Regions from separate parts of the Homo sapiens genome. Here region 1 is linked to region 2. A link means that fine-mapping ties the variant in region 2 to the expression of a gene that starts in the linked region. Tissue or cell type: cerebellar hemisphere. Region 2 holds a variant in brackets; the other region holds the start of a gene. All regions are shown on one strand. Distances are between the middles of the regions.

Evidence for each region. PIP is the estimated chance that this variant, and not a neighbour inherited with it, causes the effect.
Region 1: IGLON5 starts here. The variant in region 2 is fine-mapped to the expression of IGLON5 in cerebellar hemisphere (GTEx, PIP 0.98).

What each region holds. Positions count from the first base shown.
Region 1 is chr19:51,308,178-51,316,277 of GRCh38, forward strand. IGLON5 (IgLON family member 5) reads left to right here and starts at 3,467. Exons shown (of 8, transcript NM_001101372.3): 1 at 3,467-3,749. The coding sequence starts at 3,671.
Region 2 is chr19:52,136,741-52,144,822 of GRCh38, forward strand. ZNF616 (zinc finger protein 616) reads right to left here and starts at 3,198. Exons shown (of 4, transcript NM_178523.5): 1 at 2,992-3,198. It also overlaps the pseudogene RPL37P23. RefSeq lists an enhancer at 2,794-3,033 and silencers at 3,154-3,433, 3,444-3,493. The variant T/C (reference allele first, on the strand shown) is at 4,259.

The DNA.
Region 1 (8,100 bases), 830 kb before region 2:
GACCAACCCCCATACTGAAGCTACCTGGGGCTTGCCAGTGGACGTAGCGGGGGTGTTATGAAGACCAAATATATATTTCACAGTATCACACATTTATAGCTCTTGGGATGTAAAAAATTCTCCATGTCTCTTTGTCCTCACCTGTGAAATAGGGATAAAGATAAGTGCTGCCTCAGAAGGGTGTCATGATGCTTCAAGGAGATAATATGTACAAAGTGCTTAGAAAGATCCCTACACCGAGTAAGCACTCATATTTTATCAGGCATGGGATGGGCCATTTCAGGAAGAGGGAGCTCCTGTTCTCATCCTAAGTCTGAACGGTCCGGAATTCAAAGAGGATCAATAAATGGCCTTTCACCAGGATCACAATGGATTTTGTAGAGTGGTGGGCTGGCAAGCTGATTCAGTGTTCACCATTGCTGTGGTGTAAATCCTCCCAACATGGCCAGTTTCAAGCTAATAATGGTTTAACACCTGGCTTGCACAATTTCTGAAAATTTAATAATCAGCTCTTTTGAGCCAGTGCAAGCCACCTGCAGAACACCATTAACTTTTGCATCACCCAGTTTTGTGAACGCAGGCAGGTCTCTTCCTCCCTCTGTATCTTACTTCCCTCCATCTCTCCAAACGGAGCTAAGCCATCCGACTCACTCATGCAGTACGTATTTATTTGAGTACGTACTACATGTCAGTCACTAGGTTGGGCTCTGGAAATCCAGCCTTGAACAAAAGCAGACCAAAACAAAAACAAAAAACTCCGTGAAGCTTACATTCTGGAAGTGGGAGTAGGGGGAGAGCAACTAAAAATAACAGTGAAAGAAGGAAATCGGCCGGGCGCAGTGGCTCACACCTGTAATCCCAGCACTTTAAGAGGCCGAGGCGGGCAGATCGCCTGAGATCAGGAGTTGAAGACCAGCCTGACTAGCATGGAGAAACCCCATCTCTATTAAAAATACAAAACGAGCCGACTGTGATGGTGCATGCCTGTGATCCCAGCTGCTCAGGAGGCTGAGGCAGGAGAATCACTTGAACCCAGGAGTTAGAGGTTGTGGTGAGCCAAGATCATACCATTGCACTCTAGCCTGGGCAAGAAGAGCAAAACTCTGTCAAAAAAAAAAGAAAGAAAGAAAGAAAGAAAGAAAAGAAAAGGAAAAGGCAAAAGAACATTGTTAGTGCTATGAAGAGGTATGACGTAGAGTTATTGTGCTGGGAGTAGCAGCTACTTTGGAAACTATGATCAATGAAGGCTTCTTAAAGGGGAGAAGATGAGCCTTAAATAAGAAAGAGTCATCTGCCAGTGTGGTAGGAAGAGCATTCCAGCGAAAGAACGGCAAGTACAAAGACCCTGGGGCTGGAATTGTTCGGTTTGTTTAAGGAATGGAAAGAAGGTCACAGCGAGCTGAGTGATTGAGGCAGGGAGTGGCCCTAGCTGGTCCAGGTGTTTAGTGGTGGTTGTTCTGAAGGTGGAGGCAAAGGTAGAGGCCAAGAGAGTAGAGCATAGGCTGCTACAGCCAGAGTCCTACAGGGAGAGGTGGTGAAAGCTCAGACCAGGATGGGAGAGTAAGAAAAGGACAAAGCAGAGATTTGTTTTGGAGACAGAGCCAGCGGTTCTTGCAGACAAATTGGATGTGAGTGGAGGGGGAAGGAATTGAGGATGGATATGTTTCTGAGGCAGAACAGCCCCTACTGGGTAACTTCAAAAGCTCCTGCCTTGAACTGCTACAGAAATAACGTAGACTCAGAGATTATTTTGCTCCTGCGTATGCCAAGGGGACGGGAACAGGAGGGTGGAATACACCTAGTAAACAGATGCAAAGTGGAAAGGGGAGGGAGAAACTCACTACAGGTTTTTGAGGTGCTGGCTGGAGCCAGGAGCTGCTCCAAGATCTCTCATTCTTCTCAATAACCTTGGGCAATAGGGAATTTTCCACCTTGCAGGGGAAGACGCTGAGGTTCTGGGAAGAGAAATGGCTTGTCCAAGGTCACACAGCCAAGTCAGTGAAAGAACAGGGAGCCAGGATGTTTTGCACCTAAACCCTGGATTATGGTTTCCTCCCCACCTGCTCCCCCAAGATAAGTCCCCCAATCCCTTCCCATTGCCTTATTATACTGGGGATGAGGGTTGGGGTGGAGGAAAAAAGCAAATTTCACTCCAAAAGTCAGTGTTTTCGTTATCCATGAAAATAGATGGAAAAGCTGAACTGTGGCCCACAGGAAGAGGGGCCTGGGGGCCTGGCCTCCTGGGTCTGAGGGAGGAGGGGGCTGGGGGCCTGGACTCCTGGGTCTGAGGGAGGAGGGGCTGGGGGCCTGGACTCCTGGGTCTGAGGGAGGAGGGGCTGGGGGCCTGGACTCCAGGGTCTGAGGGAGGAGGGGCTGGGGGCCTGGACTCCAGGGTCTGAGGGAGGAGGGACTGGGGACCTGGACTCCTGGGTCTGAGGGAGGAGGGGCTGGGGGCCTGGACTCCTAGGTCTGAGGGAGGAGGAACTGGGGACCTGGACTCCTGGGCCTGAGGGAGGAGGGGCTGGGGACCTGGACTCCTGGCTCTGAGGGAGGAGGGGCTGGGGGCCTGGACTCCAGGGTCTGAGGGAGGAGGAGCTGGGGGCCTGGACTCCTGGGTCTGAGGGAGGAGGGGCTGGGGGCCTGGACTCCTGGGTCTGAGGGACGAGGGGCTGGGGGCCTGGGCTCCAGGGTCTGAGGGAGGAGGGGCTGGGGGCCTGGACTCCTGGGTCTGAGGGAGGAGGGGCTGGGGGCCTGGACTCCTGGGTCTGAGGGAGGAGGGGCTGGGGGCCTGGGCTCCAGGGTCTGAGGGAGGAGGGGCTGGGGGCCTGGACTCCTGGGTCTGAGGGAGGAGGGGCTGGGGGCCTGGACTCCTGGGTCTGAGGGAGGAGGGGCTGGGGGCCTGGGCTCCAGGGTCTGAGGGAGGAGGGGCTGGGGGCCTGGACTCCTGGGTCTGAGGGAGGAGGGGCTGGGGGCCTGGGCTCCAGGGTCTGAGAGAGGAGGGGCTGGGCCTGGACTCCTGGGTCTGAGGGAGGAGGGGCTGGGGGCCTGGACTCCTGGGCTGAGGGAGGAGGGGCTGGGGGCCTGGACTCCTGGGTCTGAGGGAGGAGGGGCTGGGGGCCTGGACTCCTGGGTCTGAGGGAGGAGGGGCTGGGGGCCTGGACTCCAGGGTCTGAGGGAGGAGGGGCTGGGGACCTGGGCTCCTGGGTCTGAGAGAGGAGGGACTGGGGCTAGTCTCCTAGGTCCATGGGAGGATGAGATTGGGACTTGAAGGAGGAGGGAGCTGGGTTTTAGGAAGTATCCCAGACTCCGTGTTCTGCGGATGTGGTGGAAAGACGTGGGGACGCCTGGGGCGGGAGGGGTAGGGGCCGGGCCGCAGTAACAAAGGCCTCTCCCTCCAACAAGCAACCCCCCCTTGACCCCGCCTCCCCGGCCCCCCACCTCTCCTGATTGGCCGGTCTCCCTGCCCGTCAGCGCCGCCCCCCTCCCCGGGTCTGCAGCAGCTCCAGCCGCCTCGTCGCGCCCCCCCAGCCCCCTCCCCCCGCCCCCGCCGCCCCCCGGGCCGGTGCAGCGCAGGCGGGGTCCCCCTCCCCCTCCCCCCTCTCCCCCCAGGCCTCGCGCGCCCCGGACCGGCCCCCCCTTTCCCCTCCCCCTCCGCGCCGCCTCTGCCGCGATGCCCCCCCCTGCGCCCGGGGCCCGGCTCCGGCTTCTCGCCGCCGCCGCCCTGGCCGGCTTGGCCGTCATCAGCCGAGGTACCGCAGCGCCGGGGGCGGGGGGCTCGGCCGGGACGCCAGGGTCTTGGGTGGGTAATCGGGGGATCAGGGGTGGGGGTCGAGGGCTGCATCCCTGGGCCGGCGCGGGGAGGCCCCGGGACGCCGGGGTCTGGGCCCGGGGGTGGGGTCTGCATTCCCTGGCTGGGCAGGGGGACCTCGGACGTGGGGGTCCGCGCCCCGGGGCAGGGGTCGGCGTCCTCGGGCCGGAGCCGGGTCTAGGGGCGGAGGTCTGCTTCCCCGAGCAGGCAAGAGGGTCGCAGACACCTAGCCCTGCCTGGGGGCAGGAGTCTGCGGCTCCTGTTGAGGAGGGGGCAGACACTGGACTCGGGGTCCCCGGGTCGGATCTCCGAACTGAGTTGGGGTGGGGGGCAGGGGATAATGCCCTGTTAGGGGTCTTCATCTGTACGTGGAGAGGGTCCCTGAAGAGGTCCTTGCCGGGGGCTGGGGTAGTCATCTCGGGACAGAGGTCAGGGGATGGATGCCTTCCCAGGGTCAGTAAGAGGAGGGGACAAGGGTGTCCACAGACCTAGTCCCAGGGTCAGGAAAAGAGGGGAAGGGTCTGAAATCCCCCAGCAGGGTCATCTAGGTTGAGAGAAAGTGTTGGTACTTGGGGAGGTTGCAGTTATGTGGGGGAGAAGGGAGCTGGAGATACAGGAAGTTGGGGTGCTGGGCTGGGGTCTTGGATTCCCAAGCTCTGATTGAATGTCTAGGTTCGTGGGGCTGGACAGTGGAAGAGCGATGGGCATGGGAGGATGAAGGAAAGACGGAAGGGAAGGGTTAAAGCAGGTTGAAGGGTTAACCCCGGCCCGGCCCGGCCCTCCCAGTTGGGGAGAGGGCCAGGGGCAGGTTTCTGCACTGAGGTTAGATAGCTGGACCTTGAGTCTCCCCAGTAGGGCCTGGCAGGCAGGGGGTGGTCAAGGAGATTCCTAGATTTCCCCCTAAGAAAAGGGAGGAGAGTGCAAGGAGGCAGGAGGCTGGAGGGTGGGCGCTCAGGAGGGCAGGGAGCTGGGTTAATTCAGACTTTCTGGAGGATTCCCCCAGGCCCTCCCCTGAACAAAGAGTTCCAGGGACAACCAAGAACCCCGACAGAGTCCCCAAGAGTCTCAGAGAGGCCGCCCGCATAGACCAAGTCTGGCACAGAAACCCCGTCACAGCGTCCCACCCGAAGCAGCACCTGCAGACACCAGTCACACAAACACAGCCCCATCCACGCAGGACGCAGGGACCTGGTGGGCCACAGCCTCAGTCCCTTGCTAGTCCTCCCCCGTCTCCCACCTGACCAGTCTGAATCGCCCTCTGACTTTCTGACCACCTGTCTCTGTCTCTGTCATGCATCTCTTTAGGTCTTTGTGTCCCTGCCATTTCTGGAGGTTCCCATCCCTTCCCATCTCTGTTATCCACTGCTGACTTTCCACCTGCCTCTGTCTCTGGGTCATTGTCTCTCCATCCCTGCTGCTGACAGCACAGTTCCACATCTGTCTGTCTCTGCTTTTCAGACTGTTGCCCATTGCATGACTCAGTCTCTTGATACTTGCTTGCTTCCTCACTTATGCCTTAATCTTCATTAACTTCTCTCATTTCCTTCTCTCATTCATTTCCTTCTTGTTCTGACCTACCTTTCTCTTTTTTCTTTCTCTTTCCTTCTTTCTCTTTCCTTCTTTCTTTCTTTCCTTCTTTCTCTTTTTCTCTCTCTCTCTCTTTTTCTTTCTTTCTTTCTTTCTTTCTTTCTTTCTTTCTTTCTTTCTTTCTTCTTTCTTCTCTTTTTTTCTTTCTTTTTCTTGTTTTTTTGAGACAGGGTCTGACTTTCTCACCTAGGCTGGAGTGGAGTGGTGCAAGCATACACAGCTCACTGCAGCCTCAATTTCCCTGCCTCAAGCGATCCTGCCACCTCAGCCTCTGGAGTAGCTGGGACCACAGATGCACGCCACCACACCTGGCTAATTTTTAATTTTTTTTCTTTGTAGAGATGGGGGTCTCACTATATTGCCCAGACTAGTCTCAAATTCCTGGCCTCAAGTGATCCTCCCACCTGGGCCTCTCAAAGTGCTGAGATTACAGGTGTGAGCCACTGCACCAGCCACCTCTTCTTTCTTTCTCTCCTTGTCCTTATCTCTTGTCTTCTTCTTCCTCCTCTTCTTTCCCTGATCCTGTACCCTTTGTGACCTTTCCCCCACTTTCCTGTTTCTTCTCTCCCTCCCCTTCTCTCTCTCACTGCAACTTCCCATTTTTCACATTCACTATTTTTTTTTTTTTTGAGGCAGAGTTTTACTCTTGCTGCCAGGCTGGAGTGTAGTGGCATAATCTCAGCTCACTGCAACCTCTGCCTCCCGGGTTCAAGTGATTCTCCTGCCTCAGCCTCGCAAGTAGCTGGGACTACAGGTGTGTGCCACCACGCTGGGCTAATTTTTGTACTTTTAGTAGATACAGGGTTTCACCATGTTGGCCAGGCTGGTTTCGAACTCCTGACCTCAGGTGATCTGCCCACCTCAGCCTCCCAAAGTGCTGGGATTACAGGCATGAGCCACTGTCTGGCCCCCACATTCATTCTTAAAGTCCCTATAAATCATTACGGGGCTAGACTGGGGCAGGAAGCTGTGGCAGAGCCAGGAGGTGGCTTGTGACCCTGCTCAAGTCTTTTCCCATCTCTGGTCTTAGGTTCCCCTTTTGAGAACTGGGGACGAGAGGGGATGGGGTGGGGTTGAGACAGAACGAGATGCCAGAAAGACACCCCCACCCACCCATGGATAGTTTGAGCTGTCTGGGAAAAAAAGCTTATGGCAAGATATGCAAACTAGCATCTTCTCTCTTCTTTTATTCATGATCTTGTCCAAGTTACAAGAGGAATACACTGCAAACAGTCCGCCTCTGATAAGGGCAAACCCCATTGTGCTCCTGCCCTGCCACCACTCTCACAACCACTGTCTTGAGAGAACCGGTCTGTGGCTGGAGTGCATCCTTCCATAGCTTTCTCTCACTTCTGCAGACTTAGACACGACACACAGAGGACAACATAAGTGATGGATTGGTTGGTTTGTTGATTTTTTTCCCCCAAAATAGAAACAAAATAAGCCCATTTCTCTGCAATCGGCCTTTTCCCACTTAACCATACCTCCCTTACATCCATAAATATTCATCTATCTTCAATTCTTTTCTAAATCTTTTATGCCAACACACACGCACCCCCTCACATATACATATTTATTTACAAAGCAGCTACATTGTGGTATTTTAAAACAATTCAACAAAATCAAATGGCCGCTTCTGCAGCAGCAAATGAGGTGGGTGGTTCCTTTGCTTCTGGGGCAGCTAGCAGAGTGATGATGGTCAGGAGGGGGCAGGAGCCCCAGATTTGAGTCCCAGCACTGCCCCTGACAAGCTAGCTCTCCCCAGGACCTCTGAGCTCCAGGTTCATCTGGCTTGTGGGCTGTGCTTGGTTGTTGGTTCATATAGCAAATGTTCTTGGGGACCAGGGCCGCTATTCTAGACACTGGATATATACATATGGCAGTGAGTGAACCAGGCAGTCACTGTCCTCACGGAGCTTAGATCATAGTGGGATGGAGAGAGATCAAAGACCAAAACCAAAACCTAAAGACAAACAAATAAAAGATAATTTCAGAGAGTGATGAGTAATGTAAAGAAGATAAAAGTGACTTGGCCTTTGAAGCTCAAGTGGTTGAGGAAACCATCTCTGAGCAGGGGAGAGTGGAGTTAAGACCTGAAGGAAGAGGGAAGTCAACCTTTTTTTTTTTTTTTTTTTTTTTTTGAGACAGAGTCTTGCTCTGTCGCCCAGGCTGGAGTGCAGTGGCACTATCTCAGCTCACTGCAAGCTCCGCCTCCTGGGTTCACACCATTCTCCTGCCTCAGCCTCCCAAGTAGCTGGGACTACAGGCGCCCACCACCACGCCTGGCTAATTTTTTGTATTTTTAGTAGAGATGGGTTTCACTGTGTTAGCCAGGATGGTCTCGATCTCCTGACCTCATGATCCGCCCGTCTTGGCCTCCCAAAGTGCTGGGATTACAGGCGTGAGCCACCACGCCCCGCCGGAAGTCAACCTTTCAAAGTTGACAGCAGAGGTAAAGACCTTGAGGTGGGACCAACAGAAAGGAGGGTAAAGCTGGGCGCAGTGGCTCACACCTGTAATCCCAGCACTTCAGGAAGCCAAGGCAGGTGAATCACCTGAGCTCAGGAGTTGAAGACTAGCCTGGGCAACATGGGGAAACCCCATATCTACAAAAAAAAAAAAAAAAGCCAGGCATGGTGGCACGCACCAGTAGTCCCAGCTACTCAGGAGGCTGAGGCAGGAGAATCGCTTGAGCCTGGGAGGTG
Region 2 (8,082 bases):
ATCCAAAGGCAATCCAATCAGTATGTTTAAGAGACATCTAGGCCAGGTGTGGTAGTTCATGCCTATAATCCCAGCACTCTGAGAAGCTGAGATGGGAAGATCGCTTGAGACCAGGAGTTAGAGACCAGCTTGGACAAAACAGCGGGACCATGTCTCTACTTAAAAAAACAAAAAACAAAAAACTTAGGAACTTCTGCCCCCTCATGATCACTGCAGTATTATTCACAACGGCCAAGATATAGAAACAACCAAAGTGCCCATCCAGGAATGAATATGTAAAGAAAATGTGTGTGTATATATATTTATGTATGTGTATATATATATATATATATATACAGAGTGTGTGTGTGTATATTTATATAATGGAATATTATTCAACCATAAAAAAGAAAATCCTGCCGGGCACAGTGGCTCACGCCTGTAATCCCAGCACTTTGGGAGGCCGAGGCGGGTGGATCATGAGGTCAGGAGATTGAGACCATCCTGGCTAACACAGTGAAACCCCGTCTGTACTAAAAAAAAAATACAAAAAATTAGCCGGGCGTGGTGGCGGGTGCCTATAGTCCCAGCTACTCAAGAGGCTGAGGCAGGAGAATGGTGTGAACCCGGGAGGCGGAGCTTGCAGTGAGCCGAGATCACACCACTGCACTCTAGCCTGGGCGACAGAGCGAGCGAGACTCTGTCTCAAAAATAAAAAATAAAAATAAAAATAAATAAAATCCTGCTATTTCCAACAACATGGATGAATCTGGAGGACATTATGCTGGGCGATATAAGACTGACACACAAAGACAACTACTGTATGTTCTCACAAGTAGAATCTAAAAAAGTCCAATTCATAGTAATAAGGCGGAACAGTTGTTACCACAGGATGCTGGGTGGGGAAAGTGGAGAAATGTTGGTCAAAGGGTACAAATTCTCAGTTATAAAATGAAGAAGTTCTGAGGAATCTAATGTACTTCGTGGTGAGTTTACCGCACTGGACGCTTTAACAGTTTGGAAAGTTTTTGAAAAATCTAATAAATTATGGGGTAAAAGTTAAAAAAAGGCAATATTGAGAAATTAATGACATCAGCTGATTACAGGATGACATCAAATCTTATTTCAGAAGTTAGTAATTATAGAAGAAACTGAATAAACTAAAATTTAAATCAAGCTTCCAAAATAACAATGAATTAACTGTAAAGCAACTACAAGGAAAAAAGTAAATCCATTAACAAAACAAAAAACCAACACTCTCAACTCTCCTTCAAAGACATACATTGTAGGCCTGTAGAGGTGGTTCACACATGTAATCCCAGCACCTTCAGGGGCTGAGGAGGATGGAGTGCAGCTGAGAGGCTGCAGTGAGCCGATATAATTTTACCGCACTCCAGCCTGGGCGACAGAGACCCTGTCTCAAAAAGAGAAAAAACAAACAAAAAACCAAAGATACATCTTGTAGTGACAGTCAGTCATTTCTTGCCTATTTCTCTCCTCCTCCATCCTCTACTCCCTCCCTGGAAAGAAGAGTTACAAAATGACTGAATCAAGTCACTGCCCTGTGGCTAAATAGGGATTCCAAATATCTTTTGATATAAACAAATACAAAATGCACAAGCCTTGTAGAAAAGAGTGGTAATTTTCATCCTCATGAGTACAATTTAAAGAAACAAATTTTAAATTAGAGTATAAAGTCACAAATCAATACATTAAAACCACCATCCATATCCAATCAACTCACAGCTCATCTGGGTGGGGTCCTCGCCCACTCTCTTCACTACTATGTGTTTCCCGCTCTCATTCTGCACGTCTTTTTTCCCTTTGCTGTTTTTCTCCCCTTTCTTTATTCCCTCTTTTATGTCTATTCTGCCCAATGCTTCGAAATTTATTTCACCTCTTGTTGCTCTTTCTCCCCAAACTTTCCCATTGTCCCCAGCCGCCACGTATTCCTGCCTCTTTTCCCCCATCTGAGCTCCCTGTCTGCTCTCCCTGTTAAAATCCCTCTTCCCTGTTAAATTCCCTTTTCCCTGTTACATCTCCTTTGTTCCCACTCTCTAGCACCCCCAACTTCCTAGGCTTCCTCCTTGCTGTGGTTCTCCCTCTACTCTCCTTTGTTACCCACTCCCCTCTCCTTCAGTCCCAGCACCACGTGGCTCTGTCAGCCGCGGCTCCGACTCTTACCTTTTCCGCCCCCCGCGTCTGACTGCAGTGCCTCCTCCTTTGCCGCCCCTCTCTATTTTGCTGCCCTTCAGCTCCCTGAAGCTCTCCCTTTTCCCTAATTTCTTTATGTGCTTTTCTCCCCGTGCTACTTTCTCCATGCGTCCTCTTGCACTCTTGCTCTCTTTGCCAGTACCTAAATTATCATCCATTTTGCCGTGTACTCATTCTTTTCTCCCCAGTTTTTCTTTCTGTCCCGTCGCTCCCCCTCTTTTCCTCTCCTGATCCCTCTCACCCACACATTCAGGAGGAAAGGGGAGGAATACGATGCCCACCTCCCGGAAGAGCACATTTTCCAGTGGAGTAAAAATTTGGGAAGGAACGACAGTGGGTGTCACAAGACAGACTCGGGTGACCTCCTGCAACGCGGAGTCAGGAAAAGCAGTGGCTGTGAAGGGGCAGCCTGGGGAGGGGAAGGACCCGGCGTGAGGAGGACACTAGGTGGCGCGCGGAGGACACTAGGTGGCGCGGGGGACGGTGTCTCAGGACAGGGAGGGTCTGCAGAATCCCAGGACCTGGGAGAAGAAGCGGCTCCTTCAGGAGCTGGGCAGCGGGCGCTCCCCTCCAGGCGTCGACAAGGGCGAAGCTCGGGGGTCTCGACTGGTGGGAATCCACCTCGCGAGGGAGGACTTGACTTCGCCCGGGGCCGAAGCAGGGGTCAATGAGAGTTTTAAGCAGGAACACGACCTGAATGGGGTTATCGACATGGTTATCTACATGGCAGAAAGGCAGGGGGCAAGGAACAGCCTGAGAGAGATTTTAAACCGACAGGGAAGCAATTCTCGGACTTACGTGGGGAGAAGTGCCTGTTGCAGGGGCGAAGGGGCTATGGGTATTTTAAGGTCCGTAGCGATCCCCAGATCACTGGTACGGAGAAGTGAGGACTGCAAAGTGCACGTTTAATCCAGGCAGACGGAGCGAAGTAATGTTTAATCCACGTAGACTGAAACACACACACAGCGATAAGGCCTTTCCCTGGCGCAATCTGCTTCCGGGAGTGACGGAAACTGCTAGCGGAGAGAAAAAACTGGGAGGCCAGGGGGCGGGGCCTGGGCGAGCCGCGACCAGCAAGGGGCGGGTCGGAAAGAGGGGCCTGACTCGGGGAGGGACCCTGAGAGGGTGGAGCCGGGCCGGAGCGGCAGTGGGCGTGGCTAGGTGGGGCGGGACGGAGCCGCGGCGGAGGATGGGGCGGGGTTTCATGGGGTAAGCGGGGCCGAAATAGAGCCTGTTATTTACTCTGGTTCACAGGCAGCATGTCTTTGGTTTTCTGACTACTTCTTGTCCTGTGAAGCAGCGTTGCTGCCTGCCTATTTTAAGTTAATGTTTCAAAATTTAAGGTTAAAGCTTAAAGTTGTGGTCCACTTATATTAGAAACTAAGATGATTTCTTAACAAGTTGAACTAAGTCAAAACCGATTTTTACAAGCTTGGTGGACTCCATCCACTCTTGCCGATGATGCTGAAGCTACTCAATAGTCAGGGAACTAGGATCTCGCTGGGGATTTGATGTGGAGCCGTGGCTGGATCCAGGAACCCGGAAGACATTATGCCAAGCGAAATATGCTAGACACAGAAAGACAAATACTGCCTGTGCTTTTACACGTGCAAAGTACAAACGTCAAATTTACAGTAACAGATTAGAAGGGTGGTTACCAGGGCTGGGGGATGTATCCTATGCCTTTATCACCATTATATTTTGGAAGCAGATAACTTCTCTGGCCTCACAGATTCACAGCTGGGCAGAAATTTTGCCTCAGGATGAATCACACCTTGATTCTCACCCATGTGTGGTTCAGATAATATTTAGGGGGTATTCTGCCCTAAGAGCTGATACAGGAATGGATTAAGACTTTTGAGAGTTGATACTGAAATGGATTAAGTCTTTTGAGATGGGCCAGCAGTTTTGGAGGCCCAGGTGGGCAGGTCACTTGAGCTCAAGAGTTCAAAACCAGCCTGGACAGCATCGTGAGACCCCCATCTCTACAAGAAATACAAAAAGTAGCCAGGCTTGGTAATGCACTCTTGTAGTCCCAGCTACTTGGGAAGCTGAGGTGTCAGAA[T/C]TGCTTGAGGCCAGGGATTTGAGATCATCCTGGGCAACATAGCCAGACCTCTCTACAAAAAATTAAATTATCTGGACATGGTGGCCTGCACGTGTGGGCCCAGCAACTCGGAAGGGTAAGGAAGGAGGATCATTTGAGCCCAGGAGGTGAAGGCTGCAGTGAGCCATGAGAAGAGGAGATTTGGTTGGGTGCAGTGGCTAACGCCTATAATCCCCACACTTTGGGAGGCCAAGGTAGCAGGGAGCTAACTTGCATTCTTCTGTTAGCTGAGGCGTTTGATGATAAATGAAAGCAGAAAGTTTGTGACTTATTTACGTTCTTTCCACAGAAAGGCCATATGTCCTTGGCCATAAAGAAAAAGAGACCTACAGCTTATCTGCTTCCTCTATTTTTTTTTATATGTTCTGGACCATGAAGAAAGATTTATAGCTTATTTGCTTTATCTCTTTGCTTTCTCCTGGTCCTTTCAGGCTGACTCCTTTTCCCCAATTAGGGCTCCACAGACTCTACCCTCAAAGGGCATTTTTTTCTCACCCTCCTATAAAATCCCTCCCACAAATAAACCAGGATCCTATTTCCCAGCATGAAAAGTTTGTTGGAAAAAAAACTGAGGCTGCATGGGACCTTCTTTCTCTTCTTCAAAACTACTTCACCTCTTCTCTCTTTTGTCTCTCTCTTCCTAACTGCCCTGCACAATTCTAGGTCCCCAGTGAATCCTTGGGTTGACATGCAAGGGAAGAACCCATAGGGAAAGGAAATCTCTGGCTTTCAGAGATAACTTTTTGGATATCTGGATGCATTCATAACCATCCTTGTGTTACCAGAAAGGGGTCCTGATCCAGAACCTGAAACTTCCATTGCACAATTATAACTGAGAAAATTATTACAGTGAAAGAGATCTGACCTAATCAACTCCATCTTGCTTTTAACCTCCAAGCTGCTCTTGTTCATTCCTGGGCATAGGCTGAACTAACTTTGGAAGGAACTTAGTTTATAGTTTGAAACAAAGACATTAACAGCCCTTTCCCAAAACAAACCCCCTTCCTGCTTGGGGACTAGACTGCCTTTGTAAGACTAACAAATTAGGCACAAGGTGAGAGATGATGGTTTAGGAGTCATGTAGCTGGAGGCTACAAGATTCTCACCCTTCCCAGATTGTTCCTGGGGATAACATTACTATTATAAAACCTAAGATCAGTGCTTGAGATATTTTGCATTCCCTGCACTTGATGGATCACCTGACACCAACCCAGATCCATAAACTGGCTCATCTGGTCTTGTGACCCCACCCAGGAACTGACTCAGTGCAAAATGACAGCTTCAGATCTCTATGATTTCGTCTCCTACCCAACCAATCAGCACTCCCGACTCACTGACACCTACCTATCAAATTATCCTTAAAAACCCTGATCCCCGAGTTTTCAGGGAGACTCATGTGAGTAATAAAAAAATTTCAGGTTCCTGTACAGCCAGCTCCACATGAATTAAACTCTCTCTTGCAATTCCCCTGTCTTGATGAATCAGCTCTGTCTAGGCAGCAGGGAAGGAGAACCTGTTGGGCAGTTACAACCAAAAGGGAGGGTTCTTGGATCTCATGCAAGAAAGAATTAGGGGTGAGTTCACACTGTAAAGTGAAAGCAAGTTTACTAAGCAAGTAAAGGAACAAGGCAGGGTGCAGTGGCTCACGCCTGTAATCCCAGCACATTGAGAGAGGCTGAGGTGGGCAGATTGCTTGAACCCAGGAGTTCAAGAGCAACCTGGGCAACATTACAAAACTCTATCTCTACAAAAAATACAAAAATTAGCCAAGGGTAATGGTGTGCACCAGTAGTCCAAGCTAGTTGGAAGGCTGAGGTTGGAAATTGCTTGAGCCTGGGAGAATTTTTTTTTTTGAGGCAGTGTCTGGCTCCGGTCACCCAAGCAGTAGTGCAGTAATGCCATCTCGGCTCAGACTCTAATTCAACACGGAATGTTGAGCTTCTGAGCGTGATATAGCGGAAGTGCCTTCTCTTCCGGTCTCTCTGGTCTTGGCCGCAGAAGCCAGATGACGAAGGGAACGTCATTGTTTGGAAAGCGTCGCAATAAGACGCACACGTTGTGTTGCCGCCGTGGCTCTAAGGCCTACCACCTTCAGAAGTCGACCTGTGGCAAATGTGGCTACGCTGCCAAGCGCAAGAGAAAGTATAACTGGAGTGCCAAGGCTAAAAGACAAAATACCACCGGAACTGGTGGAATGAGGCACCTAAAAATTGTATACCACAGATTCAGGCATGGATTCTATGAAGGAACAATACTTAAACCCAAGAGGGCAGCTGTTGCAGCATCCAGTTCATCTTAAGAATGTCTATGATTAGTCATGCAATAAATGTTCTGGTTTTAAAAAATACAAAAAAAAATACTGAATGTTTACTCCTGAAACTTATGATGCCTAGGTTGAGAAAGACTCAATTTTCCTCATGCTAAATACTTTATACATGTCCTTTATTCATGCATACATAGGACACTTTACACAATATAATTGTTGAAAGTGCTTCTGAAATACTGTTCAAATTGTCTATAATATTTTTACACATGCACTATAAAAATTAAATTTATCAGACAATAAATATTAAATAATTTAATAAAATTGCATTTTTCAAAGGCTCTAACAATGCATATTTGAGTTATCATATTAAACATTGTATTCTATGATTTTTCAACTGTAATATAATTTTTTTTGAGATGGGATCTTGCTCTCTTGCCCAGGCTGCAGTGTGGTGGTGCAATCACGGCTCATGCAGCCTCCACCTCCCCAGGCTCAAGTGATCCTCTCACCTCAGTTTTTGTGTTTTTAGTAGAGATGGGGTTTTATAATGTTGCCTAGGCCGGTCTCAAACTTCTGGGCTCAATCTGTCCACCTCAGCCTCCCAAAGTGCTAGGAATACAGGCATGAGCCACAGAGCCCAGCCAAAACTACATTTTAAAAATAATTTTTTATCATTACACACTCCACTAGAAACCATTTAACCCAATTTATGGACTTACATTTCTTCCATTGAAGAACTTGAAGGATCCAAAAATCGAGGTGACATTCTCAGATTTGTGTGGCAAAAAAAGAATAGAAAAATAACAGATGCAAAGAATGTGTTCCACCAATATGTGGAGGATCCCTTTTATTTTAAGTTCAGGGAAAGCATTGGAATGATACAAGAAAATAAACTGAAATTGTATAATGTGGAAACAAGAGCTCTGTTGCTAATATGCAAGTTTATCACTGAGATTTTAACAACACAACATGCTAATTATACCTTAAAATATGTTTCTCCCAGTCTGGGCAACATGGCGAAACCCCATCTCTACAAAAAAATCCAAAAATTAGCTAGGTATGCTGGTGTGCACCTGTAGTCCCAGCTACTTGGGAGGCTGAGAGAAGAGGATCACCTGAGTCCAGGAGGTGGAGGTTGCAGTGAGCTGAGATCGCACCACTGCACTCCAGCCTGGGTGACTGAGCGAGACCCTGTCTCGAAATATTACAATATGTGACAGCGCAGCTTCCATCAGAAATAATTTGTTCCTCTTTTGCCCACACAAAATATTCACCTCCACTTCCTCTAACATTTTTTTTTAAAAAAAAAAGCCCAAACATAACTTTCAGTTGCAAGCAAGGATCTCATGACAGTCTCATGACACTTCTGTTCACTGAGAGCCCAATAGAGTCCTCGTCACTCACGACATTTCATGGTGGAACAGAAAAATAAAACCTGAATTAACCCTCACATTCAGAAAAGGGAAACAAAGAAGGTACTACCCAGTAGGTCCATAGCAAATGTGCAATTTTGCTGAGA